7 linked regions of the Homo sapiens genome follow. The protein of the gene in region 1 interacts with the protein of each later gene in a biochemical or structural test. Each region holds a gene or a part of one and is shown on either strand. Other genes may lie near its edges. The genes, in order: MAST2, SLC22A11, FCHSD2, ZNF831, ZSCAN30, XKR7 and RPS6KA1.

What was found.
Region 2: the proteins of MAST2 (region 1) and SLC22A11 interact in a test that uses a peptide from one of them, tested with the Homo sapiens proteins (one large-scale study listed by IntAct).
Region 3: the proteins of MAST2 (region 1) and FCHSD2 interact in a test that uses a peptide from one of them, tested with the Homo sapiens proteins (one large-scale study listed by IntAct).
Region 4: the proteins of MAST2 (region 1) and ZNF831 interact in a test that uses a peptide from one of them, tested with the Homo sapiens proteins (one large-scale study listed by IntAct).
Region 5: the proteins of MAST2 (region 1) and ZSCAN30 interact in a test that uses a peptide from one of them, tested with the Homo sapiens proteins (one large-scale study listed by IntAct).
Region 6: the proteins of MAST2 (region 1) and XKR7 interact in a test that uses a peptide from one of them, tested with the Homo sapiens proteins (one large-scale study listed by IntAct).
Region 7: the proteins of MAST2 (region 1) and RPS6KA1 interact in a test that uses a peptide from one of them, tested with the Homo sapiens proteins (2 studies listed by BioGRID and IntAct, with this or other methods).

The regions. Positions count from the first base shown.
Region 1 is NC_000001.11:46,030,612-46,033,616, reverse strand, and holds part of MAST2 (microtubule-associated serine/threonine-protein kinase 2), read right to left. Parts: coding exon 2,856-3,005; intron 2,611-2,855; coding exon 2,327-2,610; intron 2,227-2,326; coding exon 2,032-2,226; intron 1,440-2,031; coding exon 1,213-1,439; intron 1,022-1,212; coding exon 899-1,021; intron 1-898. UniProt on the Homo sapiens protein: Appears to link the dystrophin/utrophin network with microtubule filaments via the syntrophins. Phosphorylation of DMD or UTRN may modulate their affinities for associated proteins. Functions in a multi-protein complex in spermatid maturation.
Region 2 is NC_000011.10:64,569,441-64,572,940, reverse strand, and holds the end of SLC22A11 (solute carrier family 22 member 11), read right to left. Parts: intron 3,290-3,500; coding exon 3,083-3,289; intron 1,963-3,082; coding exon 1,899-1,962; 3' UTR 66-1,898; downstream 1-65. UniProt on the Homo sapiens protein: Antiporter that mediates the transport of conjugated steroids and other specific organic anions at the basal membrane of syncytiotrophoblast and at the apical membrane of proximal tubule epithelial cells, in exchange for anionic compounds.
Region 3 is NC_000011.10:72,978,319-72,981,818, forward strand, and holds part of FCHSD2 (F-BAR and double SH3 domains protein 2), read right to left. Parts: intron 1-3,500. UniProt on the Homo sapiens protein: Adapter protein that plays a role in endocytosis via clathrin-coated pits. Contributes to the internalization of cell surface receptors, such as integrin ITGB1 and transferrin receptor.
Region 4 is NC_000020.11:59,166,821-59,170,320, forward strand, and holds part of ZNF831 (zinc finger protein 831), read left to right. Parts: intron 1-3,041; exon of another isoform or gene 3,042-3,500.
Region 5 is NC_000018.10:35,283,730-35,287,229, reverse strand, and holds part of ZSCAN30 (zinc finger and SCAN domain-containing protein 30), read left to right. Parts: intron 1-3,500. UniProt on the Homo sapiens protein: May be involved in transcriptional regulation.
Region 6 is NC_000020.11:31,974,651-31,978,150, reverse strand, and holds part of XKR7 (XK-related protein 7), read right to left. Parts: intron 1-3,500.
Region 7 is NC_000001.11:26,567,761-26,571,260, forward strand, and holds part of RPS6KA1 (ribosomal protein S6 kinase alpha-1), read left to right. Parts: intron 1-3,500. UniProt on the Homo sapiens protein: Serine/threonine-protein kinase that acts downstream of ERK (MAPK1/ERK2 and MAPK3/ERK1) signaling and mediates mitogenic and stress-induced activation of the transcription factors CREB1, ETV1/ER81 and NR4A1/NUR77, regulates translation through RPS6 and EIF4B phosphorylation, and mediates cellular proliferation, survival, and differentiation by modulating mTOR signaling and repressing pro-apoptotic function of BAD and DAPK1.

The sequences.
Region 1 (3,005 bases):
CAGAGTGGTTTGGGGTAAGAAGGTAGAAAACAGGCTAATCCGTCCCATTCTGCAGCCCTACCCACAGCTCAGAAGGATCCCTGGGCCTTAGTCAGGGAGGGTACTGCCTTGTGGAGAAAACTCTCTGTTGTGCCACATTCAAGTTCTGTGTGTACCTACATCTTTTTTTTTTTTTTTTAAGACAGAGTCTCACTCTGTCACCCAGGCTGGAGTGCAGTGGTGCGATCTCAGCTCACTGCAACCTCTGCCTCCTGGGTTCAAGCACTTCTCCTGCCTCAGCCTCCCAAGTAGCTGGGATTACAGGCATGTGCTACCACACTCGGCTAATTTTTTTTTTTTTTTTTGGAAACAGAGTCTTGCTGTGTCTCCCAAGCTGGAGTGCAGTGGTATGACCTCAGCTCACTGCAAACTGCCTTCCAGGTTCAAGCAATTCTCCTTCCTCAGCCTCCCGAGTAGCCGGGATTACAAGTGCCTACCACCACGCTTGGCTAATTTTTGTTATTTTTAGTAGAGTTTTGCCATGCTGGGCAGGCTGGTCTCAAACTCCTGACCACAGGTGATCCACCCGCCTCGGCCTCCCAAAGTGCTGGGATTACAGGCGTGAGCCACCACACCCAGGCATTTTTTTTTTTTTTTTTTTGTATTTTTAGTAGAGGCAGGGTTTCACCATGTTGGCTAGGCTGGTCTCAAACTTCTGGTCTCAAGTGATCCACCTGCCTCAGCCTCCTAAAGTGTTGGGATTTACAGGCATGAGCCACCGCGCCCGGCCTGTGTGTACCTACATCCATACTCGGTGTAGATGTGTGTGCACCCAACTCACCCACTCCCCTAACTGCCATCACAGACTCACAGGCTGAGGTCATTCAGGGACCATGCAGGCAGCACGCCCAGCACTAACCTTCAGGATCAGCTCTACCACCTCCGTGTGCACCAGGCCATGCACAGGTTCCCCATTGACATGGGTGATGAGGTCACCTTGACGAAGCCCTGCCTCACTGGCCGGACCTCCATCCTCCACGTGCTGTGCCAGGAAGAGAACAGTACTCAGACTGGAGCCTGAACACGAAGTATGGGGCCTGGTTCTGGACATTAAGCTGTGAGCCCCTTCACCACCACCCTTTGACCCCCGAGCAGGGACAGATGGGCTCCACAAAGGGGAAGCTGGAAGGATGATGAAGCAGGGAGACAGCAGGTCTGGATGGTCAGACATACCCACACCATATGGTGCACGGTGTAGACATCGGAGTCACCCATGTAGACGCGAATGGCCCGCAGGGTGAAGCCATACTTCTTGCCAGCTCGGTGGATGATGATGGGAGGCCTCATGCTGCCAAGGGCTGGCAAGAAGTCCCTGCTTGGAGAAGAGTCCCGGGATGATGGGTTGGACGACTGAGAATGTGGGGACATGGGGCTGGCCAACGGGGAGCAGGTGTGGTGTTCTGGAGAAGGAGAAGCCAGGACTTAGTGGGTCAGAGGGCTTTGGCCTGGCCCCTGGTCCAGTCTGTTGATGTCAGCACAACTCTAGTCACAGACAGAGCCTGAGCCTAGGTCCATTTTCCCCACAGCCCCTGACCTGTGAAGCCCTCTCCCGTGTCCAGACCCCAAGAGACGGTGGTGGTGATGAGAAATGGCAGCTAGCATTTATGTGTGTATCAGGGACTATATAAGCTTGTCATATATATTTAAATGTCACAACCTATCAGCTGGCCTCTATTATATCCACATTTTTGGATAAGAAACTTGAGGCTTAGAGAAGTTAAGCAACTTGCTCAAGGTCAAGAGCCTGTTAGTGATGGAGCCAGGATTTGAGTGTGAGCTCTCTACCCCAAAGCCTGCACTTGTGACATGGTGCTGTCCTGCTTTCTGGCACATGTATACACAACCCCAGACACCAATACACACCTTCAGAGACCACAGTCAGATCTGTGCTTAACACACACACACACACCTGCCACGTGCAGAACCCTCCCAAGGCCTAGAGATTACAAGGCCCTTCCTGTGAGTTTTATCCCAGCTCCCCAGGGGCCTCACCCGAAGGAATGAGGAGTGAGAGGGCTGTGGCTGAGGCGGACTTGATCACTTTGTTGACAGGGCGAGCAGTGCGCTTCTCTGTTGAGTCCCCAGAGAGCAGCCGGTGGCGGGCCCTACGCACAGCCAGGTCACTGATGGCCTTGGCTGTGGCTCCCTCAGCCAGCTGTGAGGTCCCACGGCCTCGGGTCTCCATAGCTGTAGGCCCAAGTAAGCAGTGAGACCCGCGATGCCGCTGAGCCTCCCTGCCCTGCAGTATCCTCCAGCTTAGGTCGTTTGGCCGCCCACTGGGCCATACCTGGACTGGAACCACTGCTCCGGCCAACAGCTTCCTCATCCAGCTTTGGCCGCTGCTCCCCTGAGTGTTCAGTGACAGGCCCAGATACCCCCTCTCCAGATGGGGGTGTCAGGACCCATATACCCTCCTGTGGTTGCCTCCTGAGGGTGCTGCTGGCCTCCTCAGGGCCCTCCGGGAACCGAGGCGCATCCAGGAGGCCTGAGCAGCGGCGTCGCACTGTCATTGGAGGGCTTGAGTCACTCTCTGTGTGGGATGACTCAGACACCGACAGCCGCTTCCGTAATCTATGAGACACAAGGCCTGGGGTGAGTGACCCAGGTGGTCCCCCTCCTCCTGCCAGGTCTCCTTAGGGGCACACAAGGGTTATAGTAACAGAACTTTCCTCCGCAGACATTCCTCCAGGAGCCACCCTTGTGAATGCCCCCTCCCTGCCACCTGCACTCCTCCCTGGCATCGGAATCTCTCCCATGATCTGTGACAATGCAGGGATAGCTGTGTCGCCCACCCTGGGTGAACTCTGGGTGCTCACATCTCAGGGGAGCCAATCACCCAGCTCCGGTCTCGGCCTTTGAGCCCTGCCAGGCCATCTGAATGGTCCTCCTTCTCCTCACTCAGGCTGCGCTTGGTCGGGGGTGGTGTCCGGCGCTCCTCGAGCAGTGAGAGCCGCTCCATGCTGCTG
Region 2 (3,500 bases), on another chromosome or scaffold:
TCTTTGACCCGTGGGTTACTTAGAAGTGTGTTGTATAGTTTGAAGAGGTTTTCTATATCTCTTTCCATAATTGATTTCTAATTTAATTCCATGCTGGTTCAAGAACATTCTTTGTATGATCCGAATCCTTTAAAATTTACCGAAGTGGGAGGAAAGGCTGGGGTCCCATGGCTGCCTGACCAGGCAGGGGGAGAAGTGTGATCCTTATTGTGAGCCACTGGAGGGCTTTCAGCAGGGAGGGATTTGGTTTGGATTGCGTTTCTTAATAAGCATGGTGGCTGTTGTGCAGAGTGCAATGTAGACATCAGGGACCAGTTTGGAGCTACAACCGTGGTGTGAACCAGGGTGTAGCCAGAGTGAAGGGAAGTAGGTGGATTTGGGAGCTGTGAGGAGGCAGGAGTGATTGACCCAGTGTACACAGGGTGAAAGAGGTGAGTTGAGGGGCCTGAGATTGAGGTGGCCCAGAGTGGGGTCTCCAGGGAAGGGCATGAGGGTAACTTTGTGGCAGGGCCACAGATATCAGTGGCATGGAGGGTTGGAGACGAGGGCTAGGAGCCTCCTGTGCTGGAAAGAGCCCTGGGCTAGGATCAGGGCCGGGTTCGGCCGTGTTTCTGCAAGCTGGCCCCTCCACCACTCTGCACTTTTGCTTCCTTGCCCATCTGAGATGGGCAGCCGGCCTCGACCATCCCAGAGTTTTCATGGCCTGGACAAGGGAGGTCTGGGCATGAATCAAGAAAAGGTGTCCCCTCCAGAAAACAAACAGCAAAAGGGTGCCGTTTGGTTGAAAGCCGAAAGTTAAGGTTCAGTATTAGGTGCTGCCCTTGACATCTGGCAAAGCCAGAAGGCCTTGGCAGGCCTGCCTGTGAGCTCCCCTTCTCCCCTTTCACTCCGCCCTGTGGATGAGGCTCCCCGGCCCAACAACCCTCATCGAGGGGACCAAGAGGGGTTCCTCTTATCCCTACGCTTGTAAGGCTCCGTTTCTCGCCAGCCTGCAGCATGATGAAACAAGCTGATTACACCTTCCCGCAGAAGCCAGGAGTTGCCCCACCCCCTTTGTGCTCCAAAGCTGCCTTCCTGCAGCCCTGGCTGCTCGCTCGGATCCTCAGTGCACCCCGCCCCATGCCTCAGTGCAGCGTCATCTTCGTGGGCTCTGCGCACGTGTGTGGTAACCTGCTGCCAGCCTCCTCTGTCTGGTGTTTGGTGGTGTGTTTGGCCGTCTTCGTAACCATAGGGCTGGAAGCCCTCCCTCACTGATGAGTAAATGAAAAGTGATTAAAACAGCTCCTTTTTTTGGAGAGGACACAGCCTTTGCTAGGGTGGGTGGTGGGGCCAGTGTAGCCGGGGCTGAGTTTCAGACCCCACACGCCTCCTTGGCTGCGTGCCTCGGGCCAGTGCACAACCTGGACACCTGTATCTGGCAGCTCTCTCAGCAGGTTCCATTTATTTGGCCGGTGCTAAGATCAGTTCACCCTGATACCTGCCCTGGGGGGTGGGTCACGTGATCATTCTCATTTCACAGATGAGGGCTCTGTATGTGGTGGGGTGAGATTGGAACCCAGTCTCTGGTTGGCGTGGCTGAGTGAAGGTGTAAAGACATGAGCCTGGCAGGGAAAGGGAGGGGAACCGTCTCGTTATTGGTTGGGCATGGCCATCTGCACAGGCTCCTGTAGGGCCCGGGTAAGGTGGGGAATCTGATCAGGGCAGGGAGAAGAGGAGTGAGCTGTGGAAGCTGCCTTCAGCCACAGCAGACGGCCACGCTGTCCACTCGGCCACGGCTGCCTGGCCTCTGCCATGCCAGGCCCTTGAAGTCGCCCAACTCGCCTCCACGCTCTGATTGGAGAAGAGGCAACTCCTTTCCAGGAGTCTTTGACTAAAGGGGCTCCATGCAGGCACAATTTCTAGAGCGAGGTACTTTCCACAGTGACGGCCTCTTGCCGGTTGCCCTGGGCTGCTGTTGATTTCCTAGAATAATCCAAAGAAAAGCAGTGCCATGTGGTGAAGTGGGTATGTACTCGGAGCTTGGGGCAAAATGGCGGTCAAGTCTTATTGGGGGGTAAACTCTATGGCATTAGGCTTTTACTCCCTTCTGTGTACCCAAGCGGGACAGTGCCTGAAACATAGTAGGTACACAACAAAAATCAATTAAATTAAAGAAAAAATGAAGTCCCAGCTTCTCCGGGTCTCTGCAGGTGTCCTTAGGCAAGTTATATAACCCTGCTGCATCTCAGTTTCCTTGGCAAAGGAATTGGACTGTAATAGCACCTCATGTGGTTGTTGTATCGATTAAATAAGGTGACATAAAACAATAAGAACTCAGTATTATTACTATCATTGTGACCTCGGTCACCATCAGAATTGAGGCGGCCCTGTGAACAGTCACCCAGGACACAATAACCACATGTCCAGAGTGCTTGCTGCAGGCCTGGCATTTTCCCAGGTGCTTTAAAATAATACTTCCCTTAAACTTGAAAACAACTCTGTGAGCCAGGCTGGGTTTTGTTTGTTTTTTCTAAACACCATCTTACAAAGGAGGAGGCTAAAGCCCACAGAAGTGGTTCTGGCTATAAAATGCAGCCAGGGAGTGCTCCCTCATTTCTCCCTGTCAAAGAATGGGTGTGAGATGGCACCATCTGTTCTCTGAGGGTTTGAAAGAACTCACCTGTTGATCTGTCTGGGCCTGAAATTCTTTGTGGGAAAATTGCACTAGGACAGTTGAGACTATCTGTATCTCCCTTTGTCAGTTTTGGTGAGAGAGGTTAAGTCACTTGCCCAGGCAGGTGGGGAACGTGGGCCCAGGCAACCTGGCTGCCAAGCCTGGGCTTTCAACCATTACATTTTCCTGCATGAGGTATGATCACTTTCTACCCATGAGACTTTGGATAAGTCACTTTCTTTCTCTGACCCTAGTAATAGTATGGGGATAGTAATAATACATTTCTGGCAGGATTGTTGGAAAGATTAAATGGTTTCAGAAACACAGGCCTTGGTACTCTTGAGCCTTTGCCCTGGGCAGCCCAGGCCTGTCTCCATCTTGGCCCAGGAGGAAGCCCAGCCCGATGCCCAGGGATCACAGGTCACTCACTGGCTCTCCAGGTCCTGGATAGTGTCAGGGAGCGGAAGTCCCTGGGTCTCCGGGAGGAAGAACAGCACAACCAGGCTGGAAGCAATGGAGATAACGCCATAGAGGAGAGGAGGCAGCAGGGGCAGGGCTTGGCGGCTCATCAGGATCAGGGGACCCATCATAGCCCCCAGCCGGCCCACTGTATGCAGAATGCCATCTGCTGTCATCCTGTGGGTGAAGGGGAGGGCCCAGATCCCTGTAACAGCTGGCCCTGTGGCAGGAAGACATCCTGGGCTCACAGATGCCAGGGGAAGGAAAGCTGGGCTGAGGGAATTGCCCTCCTCAAGGCCTCCTCTAATGCCACCTCCTCCACGGAGCCCACCCAGATTTTTGCATCTAGTGTTTCAGGGGAAATCTCTAGGGCCCACCTCATTTTCCC
Region 3 (3,500 bases), on another chromosome or scaffold:
AAAATAAATAAATACATAAAAATAAAAAATAAAAATGAGCAAAAAATCTGAATAGACATTTCTCAAAAAAAGTCATATAAATGGCAAGCAGGCATATAAAAAGGTGCTCAATATCATTGACCATCAGAGAAACATAAATCAAAACTATAATTAGATAGCATGTCATCCCAGGTCAAATGACTTTTATCCAAAAGACAGGTGATATGTTTGGCTCTGTGTCCCCACTCAAATCTCATCATCTCAAATTGTAATCCCCATATATCGGGGGAGGGTCCCTGTGGGAGGTGACTGGATTATAGGAGCGATTTCCCTGATGCTGTTCTCATGATTGTGACTGAGTTCTCACGATATCTGATGGTTTAAAAGTGGCACTTCCCCCTTCGCTTCCTCTCTCCTACCCCCATGTCAAGAAGGTACTTGATTCTCCTTTGCCTTCTACCATGATTGTAAGTTTCCTGAGGCCTCCCCAGCCATGCGGAACTGAGTCAATTAACCCTTTCTTCTTCATAAATTACCCAGTCTCAGGTAGCTCTTTCTTTTTTTTTTTTTTTTTTTTGAGATGAAGTCTCACTCTGTCACCCAGGCTGGAGTGCAGTGGTGCGATCTCAGCTCACTGCAACCTCCACCTCTCAGGTTCAAGCGATTCTCGTGCCTCAGCCTCCCTGAGTAGCTGGGACTACAAGTGCATGCCTCCACACACAGCTAATTTTTTGTATTTTTAGTAGAGATGGATTTTCACCATGTTGGCAGGCTGGTCTCAAACTCCTGACCTCAGGTGATCTGCCCACCTCGGCCTCCCAAGGTGCTGGGATTATGGGTGTAAGTCACCATGCCCGGCCACAGGTAGTTCTTTAAAGCAGTGTGAAAACGAACTAATACAACAGGCAATAAAAAATGCTGGTAAGGATGTGGAGAAAACAGAACTCTCATACATTAAAACTACTATGAAAAAATTAAAAGTCCAATAAAAGAAACTGTAAAGTTGAAGAAGTCTCCCAAAAAGTACAACATAATGACAAAGATGGAAAATAAGAAAGAAATGAAATTTAAAGAAGCAAGCTAGGAGATATCATATCTTAATAATGGGAAGTTCCAGAAAGAGAAAACAAAAGGGAAGAATTAATCCAAGAAATCAAAGGGTACACTGAGAATATTCCATAAACTTCTAAAAAAAGAAAAAACAAACAATTAGATCAGATACAAATAATCAAGAACTAGGATGGCTTTGGATTCTCAATACTTACACAGTAAAGAAGAAAACAATGAGGTATGGACTCCAATGTTTCAATGAAAGAGTTTTCAACCTTTAATTCTATATCCAAGTACAAGCAAATAATATGCCATTTTCATAAACATAGTATCTCAAAAAACTTACTTCCCATGCCCACTTTCGCAAGAAGGTACTGGAGGATGTGCTCTACCAAAGGACAGTATAAATCAAGAAAAAAATAAGACATATCATAAAGAAAACTGGAGATCTAACACAACAAAGACATATAGGAAGATCTCAGGATAAATACTTGCATCTGACACAGAGGGCAACTAGTCCAGATTAGAAGAATGTAACTCAAAAGACAGTCATAATGAGGGTTGTTATCACCAAGATAACTGCTAATGTAAGAACAGAATGTCCAGGAAATACGAAAAGAACATAAAATAATTGTTTTGTTCCCTAAGAAGGCAGGAGGGGATGAGATATAATCCAAAGCTGAGGTGAAAAGATCACCTTTAGACAGGAACAACTGCTACTGAGACTCTGGAAGAGTCTTCAACACAGATGAAGTGGACAATATTGAAGCTGTCTTCCAACGGTTTCTATCGTCTCTGTAAATTAGGAAGAAAACCCACTTGCTAAGCATAAAAGAGAAGGGGTAAGTTTGAGGTTTGAAGAGGGGGGAAAAGTTGAAATAACTGTTAAAAATAGTAGGAAAAGTTAACTAGGGAAAAGACAGTAGGCCATCTAAGCAGTGTTGAAACTGCTGCACTGGTTTCTCTATTAATTTATGATCATGAATCTGCTCCGTCGAAACTTTTCTTCAGCAGTACTTGGCTGCTTAGATACAGATTATCCAGTTATGGGGGCTCATCAGAGTTACAATTTCATTTCATTTGAAGAAGGGCAAAGATAAGAATATAAGTTAGAGTATTATTTAAATAATGAGCTATGAACTTTAACGAGGATAACAAAGAAAATGAGAAAGGATAACATGTATTAAATGGTTAGGATAATGCCAAGGCAATATTAAGCAATAAAAAAGATAGCTATTATTATTACTAACCACAGTCCTCCAGCAGTAAGTGATTTCCATCACTCTAATTTGCAATCATGTATATATGTATGTGTATGTGTGTGTGTGTATATATATATATATATATATAATGTATGTATGTATATATATGTATGTGTATATATATGTATATATGTGTGTGTATATATATGTGTATGTATATATATACATCTCACTCTCTTCTACCATATTGAGCTCTTTGAGGATAAGTAGTATGTCTTACTCATCTGTCTCTTCCCAAAGCCTAACTCAGTAGTTAGCATGCTGTAAGAGGCTCTTAAATGTGTATGATTAAACCAACAAATCAAATACCCTGCTTTTAAGCTACCCATATAGGGCATTATCACCTTAACATTAATTCAGAAAAATAGATATTTCCTTAACATTAATTCAGAAAAACAGATATTTTCAAGAAAGGCATCTAAGGGCCACTGACAATTCAATGGTGGAAATTTACTAAGTAGCTAACAGCATGATTGATAGGAGTTTTCCTGTACTGCAGACTATAGAATTAGCATGAGGAAGAAAATGAGTTAATGTACAGTACATGAAAACTGAAAGTATGTTTTCTCATTTTTAAGGGGCAGGAGGGACCAACCCCTGCCTCTATTTTTAATCAGTTTAGTACCCCACAATGTTTCATTAAATGAATACTCCAAAGCATGACCTACCCAATGCTGATCAAATATATGCATAAAGACTTCAAAGTAAGTTCGAGAACATATATTAATCTGTGAGCTGGCCAGGCCCTTTAACTTCCTCTTTGCTTTAGGCAGAGAGCAGATCCCCCAAATAAGAATGTACTTTCTCTGGTTTATTGAAGGCCATCTTTTTTAGCTGTAGATCCAATAGAAAAAAAATAGGATTTTATTTTTGCTGTTGCTTAAGTTAATATAATGTTCATTTAAAAATATTCATAGGGAAAAATATACAGCTTTGATATAATAGTAGACATATATAGAATATAGTGAATTACAACCTTAAGTGCGAGCTGTGCTAAAAATCATCTTTAGTAAATGTGTTCTTTGAAACTGTTGGTCCTTGTAAGTCTGAAGCACTATGTAATACCTAATACGATACTAAAACCAGCCAGGCCCAGTAGCTCACCCCTATAATCCCAGCATTTTGGGAGGCTGAGGTGGGAGGATCTCTTAAGCCCAGGAGTTAAAGAATAGCCTGGGCAACAAAGTGAGACCACGCCTCTGCGAAAAT
Region 4 (3,500 bases), on another chromosome or scaffold:
ATATTCATTGTTGAAGGGCATCTGGGCTGATGCCAATTTTTGACTATTACAAATAAAGCTTTAGAAACATTCATGTACAAGCTTTTGTGTGAACGTAAGTTTTCATTGTGAAATAAATGCCCAGGAGTGCAGTTGCTGGGTTGAATAATAGTCCCATGTTTGATTTGTTAAGAAATGGCCACCCTTTTTTCCAGAATGGCTGTGCCACTTCACATCCACACCGAAATGGATCCTGGCAACGTGGGCAGTGTTTCCAGATCCTCGCCAGCATTTGCTGTTTCACTATTTTTTATTCTAGCCATTCTGACAGGTGTGAAGTGATATTTTATTGTGGCTTTAATTTATATTTCCCAGGTGGCTAAAGATGTTGAACACCTTTTCGTGTGCTTATCTGCTGGCTGTATACCGTTTTTGGTGATAACTTGCTTCATGTGTTTGCACACTTTCTAATTGGATTGTTGTTGGTTTTTTTTTAACTGTTAAATTTTCATAGTTCTGTATAGATTTTAAATATAAGTCCCTTGTCAGATATGTTGTTTGTGAATACTTTCTCCAGATCTGTAGCTAGTTTTTTATTCTCTTATTATAAGCAGGGGTTTGCACAGAGCAAAAAAAAAAAAATTAACTTCGATGAGGTCCATTTTATTATATTTTCCTTTTATGGCTCATACTTTTTGTTTCAAGTCTAGGAACTCTTTCCCACTTTAGAAGTCCTAAAGATTTTCTCCTGTGCTTTTTTTCCCCTAAGCTTTTACAGTTTTATATTTCACATTTAAGACTGTTTTAAATATTTTGAGTTAATTTCTATATAAGTAAGATGTGAGGTTTAGGTCAAGGTTTTTTTTTTCTTTTTTCTTTTGCCTGCGGAAGTCAATTGTTTCAGCATCATTTGTTGAAACATCTACACTCTCTCTACAGAACTGCTTTCAACCTTTGTCAAAAAATCAGTTGGCTGAGGCAGGAGAATTGCTTGAACCCAGGAGGCAGAGGTTGCACTGAGCTGAGATCGTGCCACTGCACTCCAGCCTGGGTGACAGAGCAAGACTCCATCTCAAAAGAAAAAAAAATCAGTTGGGTATATTTGTGCAGATTGATTTATGTTTTTTTTTTTAATTATTTTGTTCTACTCATGTCTGTGTCTATTCTGACAATACAGTCTTGATTACTTTGGCTATATAATAAGTTATCAAGTTAGGTAGACTGATTCTTTACACTTTATTATCTTTCTTCAAACTTGTTTGAGTTATTCCAGTTCTTTTGCCTTTCTATATAAATTTTAGAATAATCTTGTCTATGCCCACAAAAATATCTTACTAGGGTTTTGATAGGAATTGCATTAAACCTGTATATCAATTTAGGGAGAATTGACATTTTTACTATGTTGAATCTTCCAATGCATGAACACAATATGCCTCTTTATTATTTAGACTTTATTTGAGTTAGTTCATCAGTGTTTTGTAGTTTTCAGTGCGTAAGTCTTGTACATGTTTTATTAGATTTACAACTACATATTTCGTTTTTCATTTAATTTTGGTTTTCAACCATTCATAGCTAGTATATAGAAATGTAATTGACTTTTGTGTGTTGATCTTGTATCCTGTGTCCTTGCTGCACTCACTTATTAGTGCGAGGAGGTTTTTTTTTTTTTTTTTTTGTAGATTCTTTGAGAATTTGTATGTAGACAATAATCTCATCTGCAAGTAGGGATAGTTTTATTTTTTCATTTCCTGCTTGCAAGTCTTTCCTTTCCCTGTATTTTGTATTTCTTTCTTGCTTTATTTTACTGGCTAAAACTTTCAGTCATCTTCTGAATGAGAGTGATGAGAGTGGACATCTTTCTTTTTCCTGATCTTAGGGAGAAAACATTCAGTTTTTCACCGTTAAGTATAATGTAAACTTTGGTGTTTTGTAGATGCTTTTAATCACATTAAGAGATTTCCGTCTATTTCTATTTTCCAACGAGATTTTATTATGAATGGGTGTTGAATTTTGTCAAAAGCGTTTTCTACATCAATTGATATAATTATGTGATTTTTCTTTTTACCCTGTTAATATGGTGGATTATACTGAATGCATTCCTGGAATCCTTGTTCAAGGTGTATAATTTTTTTCTTATCACAGAATTCTATTTGCTGATATTTTGGGAGAGGTTTTGAGTCTGTGTTCATGAGGGATATTCGTCTGTAGTTGTCTTTTCATGCTGTCTTTGTCTAGTTTGGTCGCAGGGTAATACCTAGGTGCTTAAAATTAACTGGGAAGTGTTATTTCCTTTTCTGTTTTCCGGATAAAGTTGCGTCGAATTTGTGTTAATTCTTCTTTTAAAGTTAGAATTCTCCACATCAGGGCCTGGAGACTTCTTAGCAGGGAGCTTCAAAATTGCAAATTCAATCTGATAAATAGTTATAGTGTGATTCTCATGTGATTCAAATGATCTGTTTCCCATTAGGTGGATCATGGTAGTTTGCGCTTTTTGAGGAATTGGTCCACTTCATCTAAGTCATCAAATTTATGTGAGCTGAGTTATTTACGGTATTCCCTTAAGGTCATTTTAATGTCTGCAGGGTCTGTAGTGATAGCCCATTTTCCTTCCTGACATTGATAGTTTGTGTCTTCTCTCATTTGTCCTTTGTCAGTTTTTGTAGAGATTCTAAAGACCAATTTTAGGCTGGGCACAGTGGCTCATGCCTATAATCCCAGCACTTTGGGAGGCTGAGATGGGTGGATCACTTGAGGCCAGGAGTTCGAAACCAGCCTGGCCAACGTGGTGAAATCCTGTCTCTACTAAAAATACAAAAATTAGCCCGGTGTGGTGGTGCGCACCTGTAATCCCAGCATGTTGCAAGCTGAGGCAGGAGGATCAGTTGAGGTCAGGAGTTTGAGACCAGCCTGGCCAACATGATGAAACCCTATCTCTACTAAAAATACAAAAATTAGCCGGGCATGATGGCAGACACCTGTAATCCCAGCTACTCGGGAGGCTGAGGCAGGAGAATGTTTTGAACCCAGGAGGCAGAGGTTGCAGTGAGCCAAGATCATGCCACTTCACTCTAGCCTGGGCAATAGAGCAAGACTCTGTCTCAAAAAAAAAAGGTGAATTTTATTAATCTTGTCCAAGAAAAAGCTCTTTCTTTCATTGATTTTCTCTATTATTTTTCTGTTTTGATTTGACCTATTTCTTCTCCTACCTTTATTATCTCCTTTCTTCCGCTTGCTCTGGATTTATTATGCTTTCCTTTTACTACAGTCAAGTGGGAGTCTAGAGTCTTGATTTGAAACCCTCCCTCTTTTTCTTTTTCTTTTTAAACAATTAATAGCAGTTTATTTTAAAACATTTTTGTGGGTACATAGTAGGTGTATATATTTGTGGGGTACATGAAATGTTTTGATACAGGCATGCAGTGTGAAATCATCACACTGTGGGAAATGCTCCTCTTTTCTAATGTAAACATTTAGTGCTATAAATTTCCCTCCCAGCACTGCTTTAGCTATGTGCCACAAAT
Region 5 (3,500 bases), on another chromosome or scaffold:
CATGTTAAAGCAATATTGAGTCATCTGATCCATGAACACAATATTTTTCTCAATTTATTTAGGTCTTCCTTAATATCTCTCACCAATATTTTATAGTTCTTTTTAATATTTTACAGATCTTTCATAACTTTTGACAGATCTATTCCTAAGTATTTAATATATTTTGATGCTATTGTATTTTTCCTTTAATTTCAGATTGTTTGTTGGTAATATAATAGAGAAATACAATTGATTTTTGTATATTAATCTTGTATCTTGCAACTTTGTTAAATTCATTTATTAGTTCTAGTAGCTGTTTTTGTAGATTCTATCAGATATTCTACATATGAGATCAGTTTTACTCCTTCCTTTCCAATCTGGATGCCTTTCTTATTTTCAGCGCAGTAAGGCAGGCAAAGGGAGGTGGAGAAAGGCATTCAGATTGGAAAAGAAGAAGTAAAATTGATCTTTATGTATATCAGTGTTCGGTAGAAATGAAGAAAGGGGAAATCTTTGTCTTTTTTCCAATCTTAAGTGAAGATCTTTGTCTTTTTTTTTAATCTTAAGCATCCTTTCTCTGTTAAGCATGATGTTAGCTGTGGTTTTTTTTATTGGTACCCTTTAACAGACTGAGGAAGTTTTTTTCTAATTCTAGTTTGGTGAGAATTTATATCAGGAATGTAGGATGGATTTTGTCAATTGCCTTTTCTGTATCTTTTGAGAAGACAGTTTGTTAATATGGTGATTTACAATGATTGATTTTTGAACATTAAACCAAACCTGCATTCCTGTAAAAAACCCTGCTTCACTGTGATGTATTATCCTTTTTATATATTGTTGGATTTTTCATGAAGAATATTGGCCTATAGTTTTCTTGTAATGTCGTTGTCTAGTTTTGGGATCAAGGTAACGTGGGCCTCAAAGAATGATTCAAAAAGCATCCCATTGTCTTCAGTATTGTTGAAGAGTTTGTACAGAATTGGTATTATTTCTTCCTTAAATATTTGGCAGAATTCACAGTGAACCTATCTGGACCTAGAGTTTTTTTGTGGGAAGGTTTTAAATTACAAATTCAGTTTCTTTAATAGATATGGTGCTATTCAGGTTATATATTTCTTATAGGGTAAGCTTTAGTATTTTGTATCATTTAAAGAATCAGCCAATTTTGTATAAGTTGGCATAAAGTTGTTTATAATATTACTTTGTCCTTTTTGTATCTGTTGAATCTGCAGTGATGTTACCTCTTTCATTCTTGCTATTAGTAATTTGTATCTTCTCCCATTTCCCCTTGTCGGATAGGCCAGAGCTTTGTCATTTTTATCTTTACAGAGAACCAGCTTTTCATTTATTTAAAAATTGTCTTTCATTTTCTGGTCTATTAATGTCCACTCTGTTCCTTATTATTTCCTTTTTTCTCCTTGCTTTGGGTTTAACTTGCTTTTTTTTTTCTGGTTACTTTAAGTGGAAGTTGAGGCCTCTGATTTGTAATATTTCTTATTTTGTGTTATAGAAATTTGGTGCTATAAATTTTCCCCTAAGTACTGCCTTAGCAGCATCTCACAAATTCTGATGTGTTGTCTTTTTATTTTCATTCAGTTCAGAATACTTTGAACTTGGATTATTTCAGTTTCTAAATATTTGGGGGGTTTCTAGAGATTTTTCTGATATTTATTTCTAATTTAATTTTATTGTAGTCAAAGAACATACTGTGTATGACTTGAATCCTTTAAAATCTATTGAGACTCATTAATGGCCCAAAACATGGTCTGTCTTCATAAATGTTCCATGCACATTTGAGAAGGATATATTAATATATTCTGCTGCTGTTGGGTTGACTATTTGATTATTGTTAGTTGGTTAATGGTATTACTGAAGTTTACTATATACTTTGCTGATTTTCTACTAATTTTAAAAGTAATTATTGAAAGATGAGTATTGAATTCTCTGTCAATAATTGTGGTTTTGTCTATTCTCCTTGTGATTCTATCAGTTTTAATTTTATGTATTTTGAAGCTCACAATTTGCATAAATGTTTAGGATTGTTATTCCTTTTCCTTTTTCTCTTTTTTTGAGATGGAGTCTCTCACTCTGTTGCCCAGGCTGGAGTGTTGTTGATGGCAACAGTGGGCCATCTGGACCATCTGGAGTGGCCACTGCCAAGATGCTGGCTGCAGCCAGGAGGCTCTGCCCATGCTGTGAGCTTCACAGAGCCAGAGGGAGCGGGGACAAGCAGGAGCCCAGCTCCTTCCAAGTTGGCGGGTGGGAGCTCCCCAGGCATAGCTGCAGCTGCCCAAGTCATGGCTGCTGGCTGAGCCTCCCTGTGTTCTTGGAGACCAGGAGCAGGCAGGAGCCCTGCTCTCCTGGGTGCAACTGCAGCCACCCAAGTCCTTGCTACAGACCGTGTTCTTGGAGGCTGGGAGCAGGCAGGAGTGCCAAAGCAGGCAGGAGTGCTGGAGCAGGCATGAGCCCTTCCTGCATCCCCCACCTCCTTTGTGCAGCTGTAGCCACCCAGGTTGTGGCTGCGGACCAACCTGGATATCTCTGCACTCTAGGGGCCTGGGAAGGCACCCCCACCTCAGCAGGCTTGGAGGTATCTGCTTCTGCTGCCTGGCCTCTCCCTGCTCCTGGTGACTGCTCTGATCTAGGAGCAAGGTTGGGGCCGAGCCAGGGTGCTGTTGCAGCCCAGCCAGTTGTGCGCATACTTGAGGCAGTGCTGACAGGCCATTCCTCTGCTGCTTCAGCCCCCTCCAGACTTTGGGTGCTGACAAACATAGAAGGGAGGCTGAGGGAAGGCTGAAGGCAGTTCAGCATTTGCCTGCAGGTGCTTGTCCCCACGAACAGCCTGGGCACCATAGAAAGCAGTAGGAGGCGACATGCTCTGAGGCAGAAAGGGGCGGGTCCCCAGAAGGCCTGAAGCCTAATGGCCAGGCCACCAGTCCCCCTGACTGGAGGGGGAACTGGTGGTGCTTTTTCTTGGACCTGCCCATGGCCACCAATGGACCAATCAGCATGCACTTCTTCCTCTCTGAGGCCCATAAAATTCCCTGGACTCAGCCAGACTGGGGGAGAAGACCTGCCAGCAGAGAGGAGCTACCTACTCCAGGGCCTCTTTTCTGCTGAGAGCTGCAGAGACAACAGGAGGACCAACCTGCAGAGAGGAGCTACCCACTTCAGGGCCTCCTCTTTGCTGACAGCTGCAGCGATGATGGGACAAGCTGCCTGCAGAGAGGAGCTACCCACTCCAGGGTCTCCTCTGAGCTATTCTGTTGCTCAGTAAAGCTCCTCCTTCTCAGTAAAGCTCCTCTTCACTTTGCTCAGCCTCCACTTGTCTACATACCTCATTCTATCTGGATGCAGGACAAGAACTTGAGACCTGCTGAATGGTGGGGCTGAAAGAGCTGTAACACAAACAGAGCTGAAACATGCCCCTTGCTCACCACATTGCAGGCAAAGAGGAGAGAAGAGCTGTGGCCCTTCAGGAAGCCCAGACCAGGAAGCTCCCTGAGCCAGGATTGTGACTC
Region 6 (3,500 bases), on another chromosome or scaffold:
CTAGGCAACAGAGCGTGACCATCTCAAAAAGCAAAAAAAATAAAAAAAAAAAGTAGGAGAAAAAAGTCCTTTGCGGACCAAACCAACACTCTTGAGGCTGGATTTGCCCATAGGCCACTGATTTGCAACCTGTGGTCTGGTGGTTAAACATCATGGAAGCGAGTATCATAAAGTCCCAAGGATAGAGCTACAGACACAGAACTAAGGGGCTTTAGAGATCATCTAGTTTATCCTCCAGACTGAAGCAAGAGTCCCTGATACAGCATCCCTGCCAAAGTTAGCCACTTCCATCTGGACACCTCTGCTGATGTGGAGTTCACACCCTCGGGAACAGCCTGATTGACAGTGTGTTCTTGCTTCTATTCCAAAGACTGTGCCTCCCTTTACTTTGAGTTCGCATCTGCCCTCACAGTATCTCTGGAGCCATAGAACAACTCTCCTTCCTCGATAGGGGGTCAGTGGGTGAGAGTTAGGACCCCTTATGCCCCTGTCCTAACCCCATCTTGTTACTAAGCAAGTAGGATGGGCTGTGACTTGGGCCAATAATAATAGTCATTGTAGTAGATGTTTTCTGGGCATATACTATGTGACAAGCCCTGTGCATTTACATTATCTCAAGACATCCTTATAAAAACCTTAAGATGTGGATACTATCACTATCCCCATTTCACAGATGAGACAGGAGCTGTGGCTGGTGGAGCAACTTCCCCAGGGTCACGCAACTAGGATGTCATGGCTCCTTGATCTGCGCTGGTGCCCCAAGCTCTCAGCTACTCTGCTTTCTTGTCCAAGTCCTAGGAAAACTCACCAGAATTCTGAAGTTACTTTACAGATGGAGTAACTGAACCCTAGGTGCGAAGTGACTTGTCCAAGATTCTGATCTCAAAGGTTCAATCCAGTTCACACCAACATTTATTGAGTACCTACTGCATACAAGGAACTTGACTTCCTCCATCTCCTAAGTCAGCCACAACTGTATCATTCTGGGAACCCAACCCAGGGTTGTTCCTACTACCTCCTCTTTCCTTAGCCTTAGGCCGTGGACAGTTTTAAAGGCTGTGGATGTAGGCCTAACAGACCTCAGTGCTGTGTCCACAACTGCAGAAAGCTCGCACATTCAGCACCCTGCCAAATGCCAGCTTCAACTGGCTTCATGTTGCAAGAACCCACCATAGACCTCACTAGAGCTGGCTGGGTGCAAGACCACCAACAGTAACAGAGGATCTAATCTGTGCTAGTCACCATGGGAGACAGAAAGAAAAAGCAACAAAGCCTCAACTCCCCAGGGGTTTGTGATCCAGCGGGAAAGCCAGCCAGGTGGGTAGATGATCACAACAAAATGTGATCAGTGCTGTGGGGTAAAAAGGAATGAGTAATTGTGCCTGGGGAGGAAGTCTGAGGGGAAGAACCCAGAATGTTAACAGTGGGGACTTTACATTAAAATACAAATTTAAAAATACTTTTCTGGCCTGGTGTGGTGGCTCACGCCTGTAATCCCAGCACTTTGGGAGGCCGAGGCAGGTGGATCGCCTGAGGTCAGAAGTTCGAGACCAGTCTGGCCAATATGGTGAAACCCCGTTTCTACTAAAAATACAAAAATTAGCTGGGTGTGGGGGTGGGCACATGTAATCCCAGCTACTCGGGAGGCTGAGGCAGGAGAATCGCTTGAACCGGGGAGGCAGAGGTTGCAGTGAGCCGAGATCGAGCCACTGCACTCCAGCCTGGGAGACAGAGCGAGACTCTGTCTCAAAAAAAATAAAAAAAAATAAAAATACTTTTCTGATATTTTTTCTTCTGCTTCTCTAAACAATACATGATTGATTGTTTGTAAGAATACACTTAACTAGCAGAAGACAGTATAGTTTGGTGGTTCCACATGTGGGTTTGGGAGCCTGACCTCATGGCTTCAAACCCTAGCTTTGCTCCTTATGAATTGGAAGGCCACTCTTCTCTGTGCCTCAATTTCCACATCTGTAAAATGGGGCCAATAATGCTAGCAAACACTAACTGAGCACCACTATGTGCTGAGTACTGTGCAGAGCACATATATATTAATTGAATCAGCCTTCACAATGGAGACCTGGGTAGGGATTGTTATGATGCCCATTTCACAGATGAGAAAGCTGAGGTCCAGAAAGGTTAAGTGACTTGCTCAAAGCCACACAGCTCATATGTGGCAGAGCCAGGGTTTTGGGTCTACAGTTCTCTTCTTCATCCTCGCAGTCTCTACCTGGCAGGATTGTCAAGAGAAATGATCGAATCTAAGTCTTAATAAACAGTAAGTATAATAAATTTCATTTTTATACTGATTTTTAAAAAATAGACAAATCTATACATGCATTTTTTTAGCTAACTGAAAACCAGAGGCAAAATCTTCAAGCAATGCAAGAAATATCTACTTAATAAGTGGAAATCTCCCCTGACCCCACCCCTCCCGCCCCAAGAGATAATGAGCAGAGGGGAATCTCTTTATGCCTTTTCTATATTGCCTGAGGTTTCAACAAGAATGTATAGCTTTTTGATCAACAGACAAAACAGCCAAACATTTTCCACTTTAGAACAATGACTTTTGCCTGGTTGAGTGAGTGGGAGGTGGTTTCTGGGGGGCAGAGGGTAGCATGTGTGGGATTTGTTCAGAGAAAGCTTCTTAGAAGAGGTGGCATTTGAGCTCAGCCTGGAAGGACGTGCAGAATTTCACTGGGAGGAGACTGGAAACTGGTGTTGGGTGTTGCTGGAGGAAGGACTGCAGGCAATGGAGAGCAAGGGGGTGGGGAGCAGGTTGTCATGTGGGTAGAGCAGGGAGGAAAGACAAAAGATCAGGGGGCAAAGGGCCTCAAAGCCAGGCTAAAGCACAGGGACTTGCTCTAGGGACATAGGGGAGCCATCGCTCTGCCTGCAGGTGGAGGCGGGATTGGGGGTTGGGGGTGATAACCGGAGGCTGATAGGATTTCCCAGGGGAGGAATTTGGATGCCCTAACAAAGGCAGGGTGGTGAACAGAGAGGCCAGAGAAGATCCCAACCATCCTCCCTCCTCTCCCCAGGGACCTGCGCCCCAGATGCTGGGTTCAAAGCCATTTCCTGGCAGCCCTCCGCCCTCCCACTCCCCAGAGCTTCTCCTGTGTGGTCTTTATAGATCAAACAGGGGACGCTGGGCCCAACCGCCGCCGCTGTGTCTGTTAGGAGCAGCTCTAATGGTCCATGGCAGCTGGATGGGCAAGGGGAGGAGGCAGGGTGGGGGTGGAGAGCCTCCTGGAGAGGGGTCTCCCAGGAGGTGAGTGGTGAGGCCCAAACTGGAACAACCCTACAAAGGCAGAGCAGGGAGGAACCTCATGGATGGTCACTGAGTTCAGGGGACTGTAATCAAGTGTCAGCTGTAGGACAGATTATTCAAAACAAAATCTTAGACATGTCATAAAAGAGACATTCAGAGATACTTGGGTTAAAATGATGGAGACAGGGCTATAAAACACAGTTTGAAAATGATGGAATCCAACCCCTGA
Region 7 (3,500 bases), about 19 Mb from region 1:
GGTTACTGTGATGTCCATCATTTCCCAAGCCCTTTGCTAAATATTCCTGTCCTTCTCTATAAGCCTGGGGTTGAATACTATTATCAGCCCCATTTTACAAGTGAGGAAACTGAGGGCTACAGATGTTAAATGTCGTGCCCAAAACCACACAGCTGTGAGTGGATAGTAAAGCCAGGATTCACACCCTGGCCTGCCCGACTCCTTCCTGTGACTGGAATCCCAACTCTCCTGGAGGTCACGGCCTATTGCTCCAGTGCCTGCATTTGGCCTACACATATATTTTGTTTGGCCTGCAAGATAAGGGGTGTTTTTTGATTTGAGGTATGGTTTAGTAAGGTTTGGTAATTTGGCTGCTTTTAAAAACACTGGGTCCGAGTTGCTATGTAGTGACTGTCAGCTGGAGCCAGGTAGCTGCTGTCCTCTGTGGACTGCTTGGAGGTTCCCACTCTGCCTGGCTTCACTCATTACTTGCCCAGCCTGTTGTGATTTTCCATGCGGTGAGATGTGAGACTATACTTTTCCTCCCCCAACATACACTCCTGAGGGTCAGGTATCAGAATCACCTGTGGGGCTTTTTAAAGCTGTACTTCCCCTCCCCCACTCACCATCCCTACTATTCTGCCACTGGCAGTGGTGAGACAGTTTCCTATAGGAATTTGTAGTTTCTCTATGTTGTATTAGGGTAGGAAAAAAGATCAACAACTTGAGCCGGGCGTGGTGGCTCACGCCTGTAATCCCAGCACTTTGGGAGGCTGAGGCAGGTGGATTGCCTGAGGTCAGCAGTTCGAGACCAGCCTGGCCAACATGATGAAACCCCATCTCTATTAAAAATACAAAGAATTAGCTGGGCATGGTAGCAGATGCCTGTAATACCAGCTCCTTGGGAGGCTGAGGCAGGAGAATTGCTTGAGCCTGGGAGGCAGAGGTTGCACTGAGCCGAGATCACGCCATTGCACTCCAGCCTGGGCAACAAAAGCAAAACTCCATCTCAGAAAAATAAATTAATTTAAAAAAAAGGTCAACTTCCATATCCCTGTGTCCCAGTAGTGTCATGTGTGCCACACTAAACTGGAAAGACTATGGAATTCAGGTCAGAACTGGGTTCTGGTCTTGCCTCTGCCTCTAACCTACATGCAAGTGAGTTGTCCTCTCAGGCTGGGCGTAGTGGCTCACACCTGTAATCCCAGCACTTTGGGAGGCCAAGGTGGGAAGATCACTTGAGGCCAGAGTTTAAAACCAGCCTAGCCAACAGGGTGAAACCCTGTTTCTATAATACAAAAATTAGCCAGGCATGGTGGTGCACACCTGTAATTCCAGCTAACTGGGAAGCTGAGATATGAGAATTGCTTGAACCTGGGAGACGGAGGTTGCAGTGATCCAAGATTGTGCTGCTGGCGAGACTCCATCTCAAAAAAAAAAAAAAGAAAATTGTCCTCTCAGAGCTTTGGTTTTCTCCTCTGTAAAATGGAGCTAATAATTCCTGTCCACCCGCCGAGGTGCAGTGGATGGCTCCAGTGAGATCACGACTGGTAACATTCTTTGTAAACTGGAAGTTCACTTGTGCAGGGTAGTTGGTGTCCTCAGCCAAGCTGAGCATCCCTGACCTCTAGGTAGAGTCCACATTCCTGGGGGCCTGGCCTTGTGCTGTGGGCATACGATTGTGTTTGAAGGAGGGAGCCCACGGGACTTTCTCCAAGGCTTGGATACAGTGTGTTGCTGGGGCTACCCTAACAGTGTGGCCCTTTCCCCCTCATCTACCTGGCACTCTTCTCCCTATGGAGGTGGACTGTGCTGGGCCATGTCTACCTACTCCACGGGCTCCACGGGCATTGCTGGAGGGCTTGGAGATCAACTGAGACTATGAAAAGACTATCTGAATAAAACCAACTAACCTGCAAAACTCTACTAATCTAACCTGCAAGGTATCTGTCTCTGTGTTTCAGAGGTGTGATTTGTTCATTCATTGCACAAAGTTCACTTAGCATTTGCTCTGTGCTAGGCCCTGCACTGGGTGCTGAAGGTGAACGGGCATTCCACAGACATAGGGTTATGATCGTTACCGAAGGAGCCCCTGGTGGCCTGAGCTCAGGGCACCTGAGGGATGCAATGGACAGTGAGGCTGGAACAGATGATGGCTGTGCCTCCCATGTTAGGGTAGGGACTTTGGGCTTTATCTTGCAGGTAGGGAGCCTTTGAAGGTTTTTTGACAATGCCCAGGGAGGTTCCATTAGCTTAGGGGAGGAGGAGCAGGAAGATGAGAACATGAGGAGTTTAGTGTGGGATGTGTTGAGTTTGAGGCTCTGTGGAACATCCAGTGGTTGCCTTGTGGTAGGCAGTTGGATTTATGAGCCAAGACTCAGGAAAAGTTCTGGACTAGGGTTAGAGATCTGAGAGGTATTGGTAGTTGATAGTTAGAGGATTGACTATGAATGGAACTGTACAGGCCAGGCACAGTTACTCACACCTTTAATCCCAGCACTTTGAGAGGCCCAGGCAGGAGGATCACTTGAGCCCAGGGGTTCAAGAGCAGCCTGGGCAACATAGCGAGACCCTGTCTCTGCAAAAAATGTTTTAAAAATTAGCTGGGTATGGTGGCACATGCCTCTAGTCCCAGCTGCTTGCGAGGTCGAGGTGGGAGGATCACTTGAGCTCAGAGATTGAGGCTGCAGTGAGCCATGAATCATGCTGCTGTACTCCAGCCTGGGCAACACAGACCCTGTCTCAAAACAAAACAAAACAAAAAAGCCTTACAGAGTGTGGGGAGGAGAAGAATGAAATGTGGGGTGGTTCAGCCCCCTCAAGTTACAGATGAGCAAACAGGGCCCAGAGGAAAGCCGTTTGCTTATGGCCTCAGCAGTAAGTGTCATTCATCCATTCATTCAACAGATATTTATTGAATACCTGCCATGTACTAGGAGCTAGTTTAAGTGCTGGGATACAGCAGTGAGCAAAACACTCAGGGAGCTTACATGCCGGTGGGCAGACTCAGAAAACAAATTAAATATTATGTTAAGTAGTGGGAAGTGCTACAGATAAAAGTAAAGCAGTGTATTCTTTGATTTTAAAGATAAGGAAAATAGGGCCAGGCGTGGTGGCTCACGCCTGTAATCCCAGCACTTTGGGAGGCCGAGGCAGGCAGATCACTTGAGGTCAGGAGTTTGAGACCAGCCTGACCAACATGGTGAAACCCCATCTCTACTAAAAATACAAAAATCAGCCAGCCATGGCGGCGGGTGCCTGTAATCCCAGCTACTTGGGAGCTGAGGCAGGAGAATTGCTTGAACCCGGGAGGCGGAGGCTGCAGTGATCTGAGGTCGTGCCACTGCACTCCAGCCTGGGTGACAGAGGAAGACTCCATCTCAAAAAAAAAAGACTTTTAAGATTTTGACCTAAGTAACAGGAAGGATGGAGTTGCCACAAGGTAAGATTATGTGATGAGTAGGTTTTAGGGGAGAATTGAGAGTTCAGTTTTGACAGGTTAACTTAGAGCTACCTGTAGA